Homo sapiens: one gene and its partner. The protein of the gene in region 1 purifies or fractionates together with the protein of each later gene. This does not show direct contact. Each region holds a gene or a part of one and is shown in the gene's direction. Other genes may lie near its edges.

Region 1 (8,881 bases):
CAGTGATAAAATATGTCTGTCTTGTAGGGTGGGCCATTTCTACCTCATCCTCACTGATGCTATTTACTCAAGAGAAATTAAAACAAAAATACATGTAAAGAAATGTCCATAGCAATTTTATGGTGGAAGACTGAAGGCAACCCAAATGTCCATGTCAGGAGAATGGATAAACAAGTTGTAGTGTATTTAAAAAATGGAATATTACTCAGCAAGTAAAAAGAACAAACTATTGTGGATGAACCTCATAAACATATTGAGTGAAACTAGACACAAAAGAATACATGTTGTACAGTATATGAAATTCAAGAACATGGCCAGGCATGGTGGCTAACACCTGTAATCCCAGCACTTTGGGAGGCCAAGGTGGGTGGATCACCTGGGGTCAGGAGTTCAAGACCAGCCTGACCAACATGGTGAAACCCTGTCTCTACTAAAAACCTCCTTTAAAAAAATGAGCCAGGTGTAGTGGCACACACCTGTAGTCTCAGCTACTCGGGAGACTGAGGCAGGAGAATTGCTTGAACCCAGGAGGCAGAGGTTGCAGTGAGCCAAGATGGTGCCACTGCACTCCAGCCTGGGTGACAGAACAAGACTCTGTCTCAAAAAAAAAAAACAAAAAAAGAAAGAAAGAAAGAAAAAGAAAAAGAAAATAAAATAAATTAAAGAACAGATAAAACTTAATCTATAGTGATGGAAACCAGAACAGTGGTTGCCAGTGGTGGTGGGGATTTACTGGAAAAGAATGGGAAGAAATTTTCTGGAATTATGGAAATGTTCTGTATCTTGATTGGTTTGTTGGATACATGAATATATATCTTTGTAAAATAGTTTTTCATTTTACCTAAAATTTTTTTTTAATTACCTTCAACACTTAGCTTTCAGCTAGCTCCTCAGTGGAAAAGAGGGGCCTCTGAAGGGGGCAGGTGGAGGTAGGGGAGGTGGAGCTGAAGATAGCTGCTGCTCTTGTCAGAAGAACAGGATCTCAAACTCACCCACTCCCTTACTCAGAGCATGTGATTGATGGAGCACACTTCTCCTTGAGAAGAACTCTGAGGACAATGGGCACACCCTTGTCTGAGCCCGTTACATTTCCAGAAAGCTAATCTACTGACCCTCTATGGATTTGTTACAACCATAAGTCTTACATAACCAGTGCTTTAAATTGTAATAAACTAGATATCTTTGCAAACAACATTCAACTTCTAAATTTTGAGAAACAGGCAAATACATGTAAAAGTTCTCATTTCTGATTTTATTTTAACTAGAGACGGGGATCTCGCTATGTTGCCCAGGTTGATCTTGAACTCCTGGGCTCAAGCAATCCGCCCACCTTGGCCTCCCAAAGTGCTAGGATTACAGGCAGGAGCCACCGTGCACAGCCTGAGATTTTATTTTCAAAGTGAACTGTTGCAGGATTGATTCCAACAGCCCTTCCCACTGGAGCCAATCACACCAGAGTTGATGAGGGAAGGGAAGAGTTAGTGGAGAGGCCTCAGCCAAGAGGCTCAAAATCAACGCAAGGAAGATGAGGACTGAAAAGCAGCTTGGAGATTTCAGCCAGGTGGAGGTGGAGGAATAGAAGCCAGATTGAGGTAGGATGAGTGTAGGGAGTGATAAGGAAATGGAGACTGAATTTTCAAGAGGTTTGGCTAAGAAGAAGAAAAGATAAACAGGGTATCAAGTGGAGGAGGACGTGGGGTCAAAGAAGGGGTTTGTTTTTGTTTTAAGGCTAATACGAGCATGTTTCAGAGCTGACAGGAAGAGCTGAAAGGTTAGGAGGCGGGGGCTGATGGATGTCTCAGGTGTCTGATAGGAGGGGAGGGGTGGAATCCTCATCTAGAGAGTGGCTGGAGAGAAAAGACAGACGCCTCTTCCGCGGCGAGTGGCAGGAGGAGCAGTGGGCAGAAGGGCAGCTGTGGATGGGGGCGGATGTGCTGGCAGGCAGGAGGGCGTTCTTATGTTGATAGACATAAGCCACCTAAAGCCATGGCTTCCAGATCCTCAGCAGCTGAGCTGCTGAGAGGTGTGCAGCAGTCTGGAGAGGGCAGGATGTGGCCGTTGAGAGTGTGGACAGAGTGACAGAGCAGCAGTTCCCAAACCCGAGTGTGCATCAGAATCACTAAGGGCTTGGTGGGCACAGAACACACCCTGAGTTTCGGAATAGACATAGAAAGGGTTTGCCTTCCTAACAAGTTCCCAGGTGCTGCTGGGGCTGCTGGCCGAGGTCCTTGCTTGGAGAATGACTGGTTAAAGAAGCCACAGCTGTCCCACCCTGCAGCTCCAAGGGGACCGCTTTGCATGGCTGCCACCATGCCCCTCCAAGAGGAGGTAGCATGCTGGTCCCAAGGGGCATGATGGTATCACTTTCACCAACAGAACTTAGCAGTCCCTGAGCAGAACCTGGAACCAGAAAGGGGGACAGGAGAAGCTCTGCCACTTGGGTAAGATGCAAGAACAGAACAAAGAGGATTCAGGTGCTGGCAGGAATGGCTGTTGGACTGAGCTGAGGGCTCCTGGCCCAGAGTCACTCTCCTCACTCCCAGTGCGGACTCTCATTTCCCTGTCACTTGTCCACACCCTGTGTCTTTCCAGTTCCCACCCAAATCTCCTGTCTTGCATGGAGCCTGGGCTGCACCACGACCGCATTCACCCTGCTGTCCTTCCCTGAGTCCACAAAACTCAGTATGCGACATGGACCTCCCGCAGCCTCCTGGCTCCCCTTGGATTATTGACTGGCTATACTGTACTCCATCAAATATAAGATGCTATCACTTGTGAAAGACATTACTTAATCACTGCCAATTATAATTGTAAAAGATATCTTGATTCTCAAGATGTTAAAATGTGAAGAAATGTGTTTCTTAGAATCCATGGAATATGGATTCTTGAGCATCTGAACAGGTGATCTGCAGAGCATGGTGCCCCCCAAGACCCATTCAGGGGGGTCTCCAAGGTCAAAACTATTTTTTGCAACAATATAAGTCATTATTTGCCCTTTTCACTCTCATTCTCTCATTAGCGTGCAGTGGGGTTTTCCAGAGACTACATGTGTGATGACATCGCTTTGATGCCCAATGGAATATATGTATTCTTGTGTCTTAAAACTTTCTGAGTTTTAGTTTCTAATATGGTAAATGTTGATAGACATAAGCCACCTAAACAAAAGCTCTTGGGGTCCTGAAACCAAAAAATTTAGGAATCACTGCACTAGGTTGTACGCCCAGCACTTGGCCGGCATTGAGTCCATGGTCAAGCGTAAGGAGAGGCCCGAGGGGGATGTGCACAGTGCTGAAGGTGCACAGGAAAGGGACTTATCCCAGCCGGTCTGGGAAGGCCTTCCAGGGGAAGTGGGGTGCTCGCCTGCCAATCTCAGGCATGTGGATGCTTCACCCAGGTGGCCCTGTCTTGCTGACCAGAGATTTGTGCCAAACCAGCTCTGCGACCCTGGGTTTAGTCATGCTACCTTCTATCACTATTAACATGAGGCTAATGTGTAGGTCACAGAGGCTGTGATGAAAATTAAATAATTGAATGCACGTGAAAGAATGCCACTCATAGAAGGTTTCACATGACCACATCCTTGGTGGCTGGGTTGTGTCTTGGGCATCTCTGTTTTCTGCCACAGAGCTTAACACAATGCTTGGCACACAGGGGTGCTTGGAAAACACTGAGTGAAGGAATGCATGTTGGGGGTGTGGCCTAAGCAAGACGTGGAGCTTGCCTTCTCCAGACACCAGGTTTCCCATGGGATCTGGAGCAGGTGATGAGCGGTAGTCCATAACACCTTCCTCTCTGGCTCTGTGCCAAACCAGATTCCTCCTCGTCTCCTCCAAACCATCTGTCTTCTTCCACCTCCCCATTCCCTCCCCCCAGTTCCCCAGGCTGGTGGCCTTAGCATCAGTTAGACTTTCTTCTTTCCCCACCTGTCTGTCCTCAAGGTTGCTAGGTTCATCCAAGATCTGAGCCAAGAGGTCCGGGTCTGGGACGTGGGCGCTAAGGGCCCAAGGCAGCTGCAAAAGACCTGAAAGGTGAGAAGAGAGATCAGTGGAGGACCCCGGACTGTCCTCAAGAAGCGGACGGACTCCCCTGCCCTCCACTGGCAGCCCAACAGCAGAACCAAAGCGGACCACTCAGCACAACCTGTGTGTGTTGCTGGGCGCTGTCCCTGGCCCAGTCTGGACCAGGAGCAAAGAGGAAAGATTCAGGGCGTTAGTGCCAAGAGCAGCCATCCCAGCAACAGAAGCCCCTGCTTCCCCAGTACCCGTGATACTTGGGAGGAGCAGAGTCTTGAGTGGAACCCGAGCCTCTGACACCCGCCCTGGGGGTCTTCCCTCCACTCTCGCCAGGGTCCTCCTGGATGAGTGAGACAAGGGCAGTTCAGGAGGTCACCCAATAACTGAGGTCGCAGCAACACGAAGGAGCCAGGGAGCAGGGGCGGCCTTCCCTTCTCCACTCCAGGCGGCTCCAGCGTGCACCCCAGGACCCCCCAGGAAGGTTTTGCAGGAATAAAGAATGAAGGCAGAAGCAAGATGGAGGATGAAGGAGGCGTGGATGGCTTCAGAAGGCAAGACGGAGGCAGCAGTTTGGCGCCTGTCTCAAAGCCTCCTCCCCGCGCCAAGGACAGGTCGGAGGAGGGGGGCGTGGGGACAGGTAGAGCGGAGGCTCCAGCGTTTCTAAAGGGGAAGACCTGAAGTGGGGCAGGAGAGACGGGTGAGTTGTCTGGAAGCTGCATTTGCCTGGCAAACACTGGGTTAACAAAGACTTGCGTTGCGGGGATGCTGGCCTTGGACAGGGAATGCGAAGGGATTATGCTACGGAGAACGGATCCGAGCGTGACGGCTGAATGAATGAGTGAGCGAGTGAGTGAGTGAGTGAGTGAGCGAGCGAGTGAGTGACTGTGCGAGCGAGCGGCAGAAGGAACTCCGACCCGCCCCAGGTGCGGAGCGGCGCGCCCGGCAGGGGTCACTGCGGGCCCCGCGGGCGGGAAGGGGGCGCAGGCGCGGCGGGCGCCGGGGCCCTCCCGCGGGGACGGGGCGGGGAGGGCTGGGGGTGGGGTTAGAGAGAGGGACGCGAGCGGGATCCAAACTTCCGGTGCCTGCAGAGCTCGGAGCGGCGGAGGCAGAGACCGAGGCTGCACCGGCAGAGGCTGCGGGGCGGACGCGCGGGCCGGCGCAGCCATGGTGAAGATTAGCTTCCAGCCCGCCGTGGCTGGCATCAAGGGCGACAAGGCTGACAAGGCGTCGGCGTCGGCCCCTGCGCCGGCCTCGGCCACCGAGATCCTGCTGACGCCGGCTAGGGTGAGAGGGTCTGGGGCTCAGGCGGTGGGGCGGGGGACCCAGGCTCACGACCCAGGCGCGCCCCGTCGGCCCTGGGGACTGCCCGAGGCGCGTCAGGGCCCCAGAGCCCGGGGTGGAGCAGGGTTGGGAAGTCTCGAATGGTTGCTTATCCCAGAATGAGGAGGGGGCTTAAGTCCCGTACTAAAGCGGCAGCCAAAAGCTGAAGTCCGAAGAGTGGGAGGCGTCTGGTTCTGGTCTTCAGGTGGAGAAGTGCTCGAGGTCTCTTCCAAAAGTGGGGGCCCCCTCGCCGCCTTATAGGGGGAGGGGGCTGGTCCGAAGAAGTTCGAGGAATGTTGGTGGGGGGGTACGCGTCTGGTTCCAATCAACTGGGAAAGCCGCGAGTCGAGTCCCCAGGTGGGGGATGGGAGGAGGGTTAGACGTAGTTTTTCCAAAGTAGGGCGGTGGGACCTGATTGGCTGGGGAATTGGGGGTGGGGGGGTCTGGTACCAACGAAGAGGGTGGGGCCGTTGATTTCCTCCGAAATTGGGGGCTGCGAGGGACAGAGGATGTGCTGCTGGCCTGCACCGGAATTGACAGACCAGAAAGTGATGAAATGGAAATCAGCCAGAACCGACGGCGCTGCGGCCTCTGGACGTCGGGGGTCCGAGGCCGGGTGCCCCCTTCCCACCCCACGCCCTGCCGTCTGGGCCTCCCTGCTCCCCTCTCTTTTCTCCATTCCCAGCCTCTCGCTGGGCTGTCCCCCGACCCCACGGGGAGGGCTCCCAACTGCCCCAGTGCCCTTGCATCCTGGGTCCCCGGGCTCTGTGCGCGTTCCCCCACCCCTGTCATCCCCCTCCCCTACCCCGGCTTCCTCCACTTTCCCTCTGGCCGGGGGGGAGAGAAGGCATTTCCGCCGTGGAAAACTGTCTGAGCTGCGTGCCTTGTGTCCGGGAAGGGCCCGCAGGGGGCAGAACGCGTGGCGGGCAGGGACAGGGAGGGAGGGAGAGCTGGCCCAGCCAGGTTTTATTGTGCCTGGCAAAGGTGTCTACGTGGGCGCCGCCCCCAGCGGTCTTGTGGCTTACCAAGCCCATGTCCTCCCCGCCTCCCCACCCCGCATTGAGGCAGGACTGAGAAAGTCTTTGTCCACTGCTTCCCCACTTCCAGATGCAGGCTTCTGAAGAGTCTTCCTGAACGCCTAGCCCCCTCCCCAGGTTTTGTGGCTCAGGTTCAGTCTTGCCTGGGGCATTAAGGGGCCTGCAGAGGATGACCTGGACCCTGGAGGAGGGGGCGCCGGAGAGGGCCGTCAGAGTTGGGTGTCAGCCTGGGCAGAGACCCTGAGTGAGGAATGCCAGGAGACTGAGAACCCCCTGCCCTTTTATGGTGGTCACTGCAGCAACCAGTGGCTCAGAGCCACAAGAGTTCAACAACCACCTAGGCGAGGTTGGGGGTTGCTGTGCACCCCATGAGAGCAGCTCCCCCCTTTTCATCTGAAGCTTAGGTGGAGGGGGCGCTCCATATTTGAAGAAGATGGTTCTGCAGCTTTAAAAGTTTGCAAGGGGTTCTTCAAGACTCCTTTTCTTTGGAAGGGAAGCTGCCCTCCACTCAGCCTGGGGAGGGGCAGGGATGGGGGCAGGAGGCAGCACGCTTGCCCATCTCTTTTCCTAGCCACCTCTTCCTGGAGATATTTGAGGAGGGAGGACCAGGTCAGACAGTGGGAGGGTGTTATTCCAACTCCATCAGAAGGTCCCCCAGATTTTGCAGGAGCGGCACATTCTCCAGCCGCAGCCTGCTGATGGCATGGGTTTGGGCAGTCTGACAGAGACCTGCATCTCGGGGCATAACTGACATCCTAGCTTCTGGCTTCTCATCAGGCTCTGAAATTGAGCGTCCTTTCTTCCCCCTCACCCAGCATGAAATGGAAATATCAACATCTTCCTGCGTGCTGTTTGTAATGGCCTTGAGCCTGCTGAGTACCTCCTCCCTCAAACTTTGTCAGTTGGGCAGGGTCCCCTCCCTCTCTAATTGGCAAGGGGGAGCTTAGGACTATGCGATCTGGGGAAAGAATTAGAATCCTGGCATCTTTAGGACAGAACTGCATGTTAGTAAACTTTCACAGCTTCCCAAGGCCCTGGCGTGGTGCAGAGGGACTTTAGGTGTTGCAAGTTGGCTCTGCCCATCACCTGCTAGATTTGGAGCCTTGGAAACAGTTCACTTCTGCGGGCCTCCTGTTGCCCCACTTGGCCAACCCGCACATTTCCTCCTTACCCAGTTTCTGGCAAGGAGCCAGGCCTCGTCTCCTGCCCCCAGCAGTGAGCAGGCAGGAGGCCCATTTCTCAGCTGTAGCTCTGTGAGCCGAGGGATGGCAGCCAGGAGGCTGCTTTCTCAGGGCAGGGCGTGTAGATTTTGTCCCGTACTGTTGGGAATGCCCAGGAAAGCTTATTAAAACGTTTCTTCTGGCTGGCAGTGACCCCAGAACCCTCCTTGGTGTCTGAACTGGACTCCAAAACAAGATTTATTTTATTTTATCTATTTTATTTTATTTTATTTTTTTTTTTGAGACAGAGTCTCACTTTTACCCAGGCTAGAGTTCCGTGGCACGATCTTGGCTCATTGCAACCTTCACTTCCAGGTTCAAGTGATTCTCCTGCCTCAGCCTCCCAAGTAGCTGGGAATAAAGGCACCTGCCACCATGCCCGGCTAATTTTTGTATTTTTAGTAGAGACAGGGTTTCACCATGTTGGCCAGACTGGTCTCAAATTCCTGACCTCAGGTGATCTTCCCACCTCAGCCTCCCAAATTGTTGGGATTACAGGTGTCAGCCACCACACCCGGCCCAAAACAAGATGTAAAAAGTGATCCGCAGGAGGAGCACTCGGTGAACAGATGATTGTGCGGTGAACAGATGATTGTGCGTTGGGGCAGTTCTTGACCTGTGTCCAGGCCCAGAGTGAGGGCGGGGTGGGGGCAGGGTGAGGCGGCAGGAGCACCCTCTCGGTGGGCACTGCCCCTGCTTCTGAGCAAAAACTGCAACACAAGGAGGATTTTGTCTGTGGACCTGAGACTGGAAGGAAGTGCCTCAGTGGGCCAGGGAGGGATGGGGGTGGGGGCCAGCTGGGCTTCCAGCTGCCCGGCCTCCCCCCCTGGTGTTTTGACTCTGAGATAATGAGGAGCTGGGACACTGCCAGCTTGGGAAGTGGGCTGGACCGGAAGCACCCCCTGGGACAGCAAAGCACTCCCTCCCAGCGCCAACTGGATCCCTCCTCCCCTTTGGGGGCCCACTGGCTGGCCATGCCCCTCTTAGCCTGCCCCTTCTCCCCACACCCTGCCTGTGCCTGCACTCACACACACACACACACACACTTATGCACACACATGCACGCACAGATGTGGGCATGTAGAGGCTCACGAGCTGGGGCTGTAAGGGGAGAAAAACAAGTTAAATACAATCATCTTCTTACCTCTGTAATTTTCTCCTTGGCATTTGCCTTTGATTAATGGTCCTGTGTCACCCCCTCCCCAGCCTGCATACCTGGGGATCAGATTTCAGTTTCCTAGTGTGTCCTGGTCTCAGGCCCTCGGCAGGAGGAGCTGGGTCTCCTGGAGCG
Region 2 (4,598 bases), on another chromosome or scaffold:
CCTGTCTCCCTGGTTTCCTAACCTAGCTGTGGACACAGTAGTATTATAGTTAGGTCTTGAGAACTCCCAGGACTCCAGTAGACTTGTGTGGGTTCTCAGTGGGGTTGACCCCATTCCTCTGAGGTCAAAATAGGCCCTTCATGAAGGCTTCCTGAGGGTCTTTCAAGTTCCCATCCCCATTCGGACCATGCTATGGGGAATCTTCTTTGAGATGGGGTGAATGTGGGAAGGCTGGAGGCAGTCCTTTTCCTACCCTTGTGGGTGAATAAGTCCAGGTGTGCCATCTACTTCACTTGAAGGGCTGACTCAGGTGAAATCCCAGCTGGGCGGCTCTCAGCCTCCCTTTTTCTGTACCCCGTGGAATCCACACAGAGCCTGGCCTCTCCAATTGCTGTGCTTTGGGGGCTCTTTCCACCTGCCTGACCCTCTAGACCCCCAAAGCCACCACAGCCTCTGTGGCAATGGGACAGACACATGGTGGCTGTGGAGTTTCCATGTCTGTGTCTTTGCTGACTTGGGAGTTCCTCCTGCACACCATCCCAGCCGCCCTCTGCATTCCGCCACCCTAAGGCTGGAGGCTTCACCATGTGGCAAGAGACCAGAAAATTTAAAATACCATGCCCAGTGCACATTGCATCACTCAGGGACCCTGCTGGAGGGAGAGTCTGTTATCTTTTGAGCATACAGTAGGTATTCAAAAAGTACAACACTTGGTGAATGAGAAGATTGGCATTAGTGATGGAACTGCTCACACTATGAGCTTTGTATTGCCCAAACGTTTAGGTTCTTGGTGCTCTATTCGTGAGTCAGTGTTGGTTTTAGAACGCAAACACTTGAGGAGCAGAGATTGTGTTCTTTTAGAGTAAGCCCTGCCTCTGCCCTGGGACTCCAGCTTAGAACATGCCTGAAGCATATTAATTGATGGGTGTATCATTTCCTGAGGCTCTCTCTGGTTGACCAAGCTTGGTGATGTTGGATAAGGCTCCATTCAAAGGATAAATGCCTAGATAGTCCAGGAAGGCCACCATGGTGCAGGCAAAGCAGGGAGGCCCCCCAGAGGCTGTGAGCTTAGGAGTGCTGACAGCCCTTTCTCACCCCACAGGGCTGGGGCTCTGTGCCGCTACTGCAAGTGTCTGTCAACATGGCCACAAGGCTGGGAGTACTGGACCCAGACAGGGCACAAATGGGAATACCAGAAACACATGGTTCCCACTCTCAACACCTTTCTTCTAGTCCAGCTGCAAAATGCAATTCACATTTACAAAACCCATGTAAAGACACTTAGAAAGTAGCCTGTTAACCAGTGGGGAGAAAATGCAAAAGGAGACAACCAGAGAGATGTGCGAGGAGGTGAGGGAATGTGAGGGAGCGATGATAGTGATGAGAAATCCACACTCCTGACTTTCAGACTCTCCTCCTCCGAAATCTTTGCTGGAGCTTAAATGGTGCAAAGCCCGTGAGCATCTGTGCCTATCATGGAAACAGTTAGCATGTGTCAGCACCTGTTAAATCCCTGAGCACTTTGTATCATTAATTCTTACAGCTATACTATGAGGTAGGTATCACTGCCCCTAGTTCACAAATGAGGAAAATGGGGCTCTGAGAGCCTAAACAGCTTGCCTCAGTCATATAGCTAGTGAGTGGCAGAAATGCAATCTGAGTCTTCAGTTCTGTGCCTCTAAGAGCCACTTGGTTTCCACTCACATTGCCAAAAGTAACTTCGTGGAGGGTAGGATGTTCTACAGAATCTAAGTCGTGGGGTCTCGTGCTGACTGTTGCTCTGTTTGCTGCTTCAGGTAATTTGTTCTTGGTGAGTCTGGCATTGGCTGACCTGGTGGTGGCCTTCTACCCCTACCCGCTAATCCTCGTGGCCATCTTCTATGACGGCTGGGCCCTGGGGGAGGAGCACTGCAAGGCCAGCGCCTTTGTGATGGGCCTGAGCGTCATCGGCTCTGTCTTCAATATCACTGCCATCGCCATTAACCGCTACTGCTACATCTGCCACAGCATGGCCTACCACCGAATCTACCGGCGCTGGCACACCCCTCTGCACATCTGCCTCATCTGGCTCCTCACCGTGGTGGCCTTGCTGCCCAACTTCTTTGTGGGGTCCCTGGAGTACGACCCACGCATCTATTCCTGCACCTTCATCCAGACCGCCAGCACCCAGTACACGGCGGCAGTGGTGGTCATCCACTTCCTCCTCCCTATCGCTGTCGTGTCCTTCTGCTACCTGCGCATCTGGGTGCTGGTGCTTCAGGCCCGCAGGAAAGCCAAGCCAGAGAGCAGGCTGTGCCTGAAGCCCAGCGACTTGCGGAGCTTTCTAACCATGTTTGTGGTGTTTGTGATCTTTGCCATCTGCTGGGCTCCACTTAACTGCATCGGCCTCGCTGTGGCCATCAACCCCCAAGAAATGGCTCCCCAGATCCCTGAGGGGCTATTTGTCACTAGCTACTTACTGGCTTATTTCAACAGCTGCCTGAATGCCATTGTCTATGGGCTCTTGAACCAAAACTTCCGCAGGGAATACAAGAGGATCCTCTTGGCCCTTTGGAACCCACGGCACTGCATTCAAGATGCTTCCAAGGGCAGCCACGCGGAGGGGCTGCAGAGCCCAGCTCCACCCATCATTGGTGTGCAGCACCAGGCAGATGCTCTCTAGCCTGGATCTGAGGCACACCAGCAGCATGACAAACTCATGAAATGGTGGGAGAGAGTCTGCTGCAAGGGTGAGACCAGGCAGCCTGCTGGGCCACACTGTCCTGTTGGCATCACAGCCCCAAGGCTGGGGGAACTTCATGCTGGGACAAGCAGCCCATCAACGCCATGGGTTCAGGCTGATCCAGGAGATGCTCACAGGCCACAGGACCTGGAAAACACTCTTGGTGGTGTCTTGGGGATTTGGTGCACACAAGACCAAGGAAAGGACAGAATGAGGAAAGGCCTGGGGCAGAAGAGCCCAACTCCTTCTCATAGCTGACCCTCATCCTCCTGCCTTGGCCTCCTGGCTGCTTTCTCCCCTTCCCCCCAGCGTGGCAGGATCTCTTCCTGTTAGCAAGGATGAAAGAGAGAGGTCAGTAGGACTGGAACTTGGTAACTGCAAGGGCCTCAGGTGGGGCAGGTGCAGAGGGCAAGCATTCCACACTCCGCCATTGACCTTCCCTACACACACACAATCACAACCACACATGCATCACACCACAGACACACCACACTATGCACACATACACTGTGTACACATACATATGTTACACACACATAGCCACCACATCACAAACACACTGCACCCCCCCCCCCCACACACACACACACAGTCACACTGCTCCAGCATCTGGAGCACAAAGTCCGCTTGGCCTCCTTTTCTGGTTCCATCATGTTCAGGTTGTGTGACTTGGGGAAAGTCTCCTAACCTCCCTGTTCCTCAGTTTACTCATCTTAAAGTGAAGATCATGCCGTAGTCAGCCTCCCAGGTTGTTGTGAGGATTCTCTGGGATAACACATCTGCAGAGCTGAGGACAGTGCCTGACATGTGGCTAGCAGGCAGTAATCATTAGCTTTTGTTATTATTATAACTACATAAAATGAAGGAGAAAAGTCATATACAAAGAAAGGAAGGGCTATCACCGGATGCGGTGCCTCACCCCTGCCTCAGCTTGAACCCAGGAGTTCAAGACCAGCCTAAGCAACATGGCAAAACCCTGTCTCTACAAAAATTAGCTGGGCATGGTGGCCCATTCCTGTGGTCCTAACTACTCAGGAGGCTGAGGTGGGAGGATCACTTCAGCTCAGCAGGTTGAGGCTACAGTGAGCTGAGATTGTGCCACTGTACCCCAGACTGGGTGACAAAGTGAGAGCAAGACCCTGTCTCAGAAAAAAAAAAAAAAAGAAGAAGAAGTAGAAGGACAGGAAGGGAAGGGGAGAAAATGGGGTAGGGGACATGGAAGTGGGGAAAGGGCAGCTGCACCCCAATTCATTTCTATGGTTATGTATTTGTGGACTTTATATTCGTAGAAATCTCAGATCTTTGTTTAGCGCCAACAGAATTAATAGCTTTCTTCAGTTCCACAAACACTGAGTGCCCTCTGTGGGCCAGGACTGGTTTGTTGCCTGCCCTCTGCAAGGTCACAGTCTGTTGATAAATTAGTATCAAGTAATATCCATTGGTGCTTTCTATGTACCAGGCATTGTGGTAAGGGCTTGATATGCATTATGTCATTTAATCCCCACAAAACTCTTGGAAAAAGATACTATGATCAATTTTCATAGTAAGAAACTGAAACTCAAAAATGTGGAATGATTGCCAGAATTCAGATAGCTATGTTCAGAGCTAGATGTGGAGCTCAAGTCTGTCTGATGACAGCACCCTACTTCTATCCCCCATCATCCCACCTCGGAATATGTGGCAGGGACAAAGTGCAGTGGGCTAAGTACTGCATGTCCACAATGTGCCTGGGGTCCTCAGCCACCCAGCGGCTTTCCTGAATGAAGAACCCAGGATTTTCTTGGTGTGCTGACCTCTTAGCATTATGCTGGATCCTCTTTCTGGCCTTGCAATGTGAGGAATCTAGGCTGGGTGCTGTGCTTAGTCCCCTAGCCAC

The links.
Region 2: the proteins of ITM2C (region 1) and MTNR1B purify together in Homo sapiens (tandem affinity purification; 2 studies listed by IntAct). This does not show direct contact.

The regions. Positions count from the first base shown.
Region 1 is NC_000002.12:230,859,849-230,868,729, forward strand, and holds the start of ITM2C (integral membrane protein 2C), read left to right. Parts: upstream 1-5,093; 5' UTR 5,094-5,177; coding exon 5,178-5,297; intron 5,298-8,881. UniProt on the Homo sapiens protein: Negative regulator of amyloid-beta peptide production. May inhibit the processing of APP by blocking its access to alpha- and beta-secretase.
Region 2 is NC_000011.10:92,979,651-92,984,248, forward strand, and holds the end of MTNR1B (melatonin receptor type 1B), read left to right. Parts: intron 1-1,796; coding exon 1,797-2,662; 3' UTR 2,663-3,132; downstream 3,133-4,598.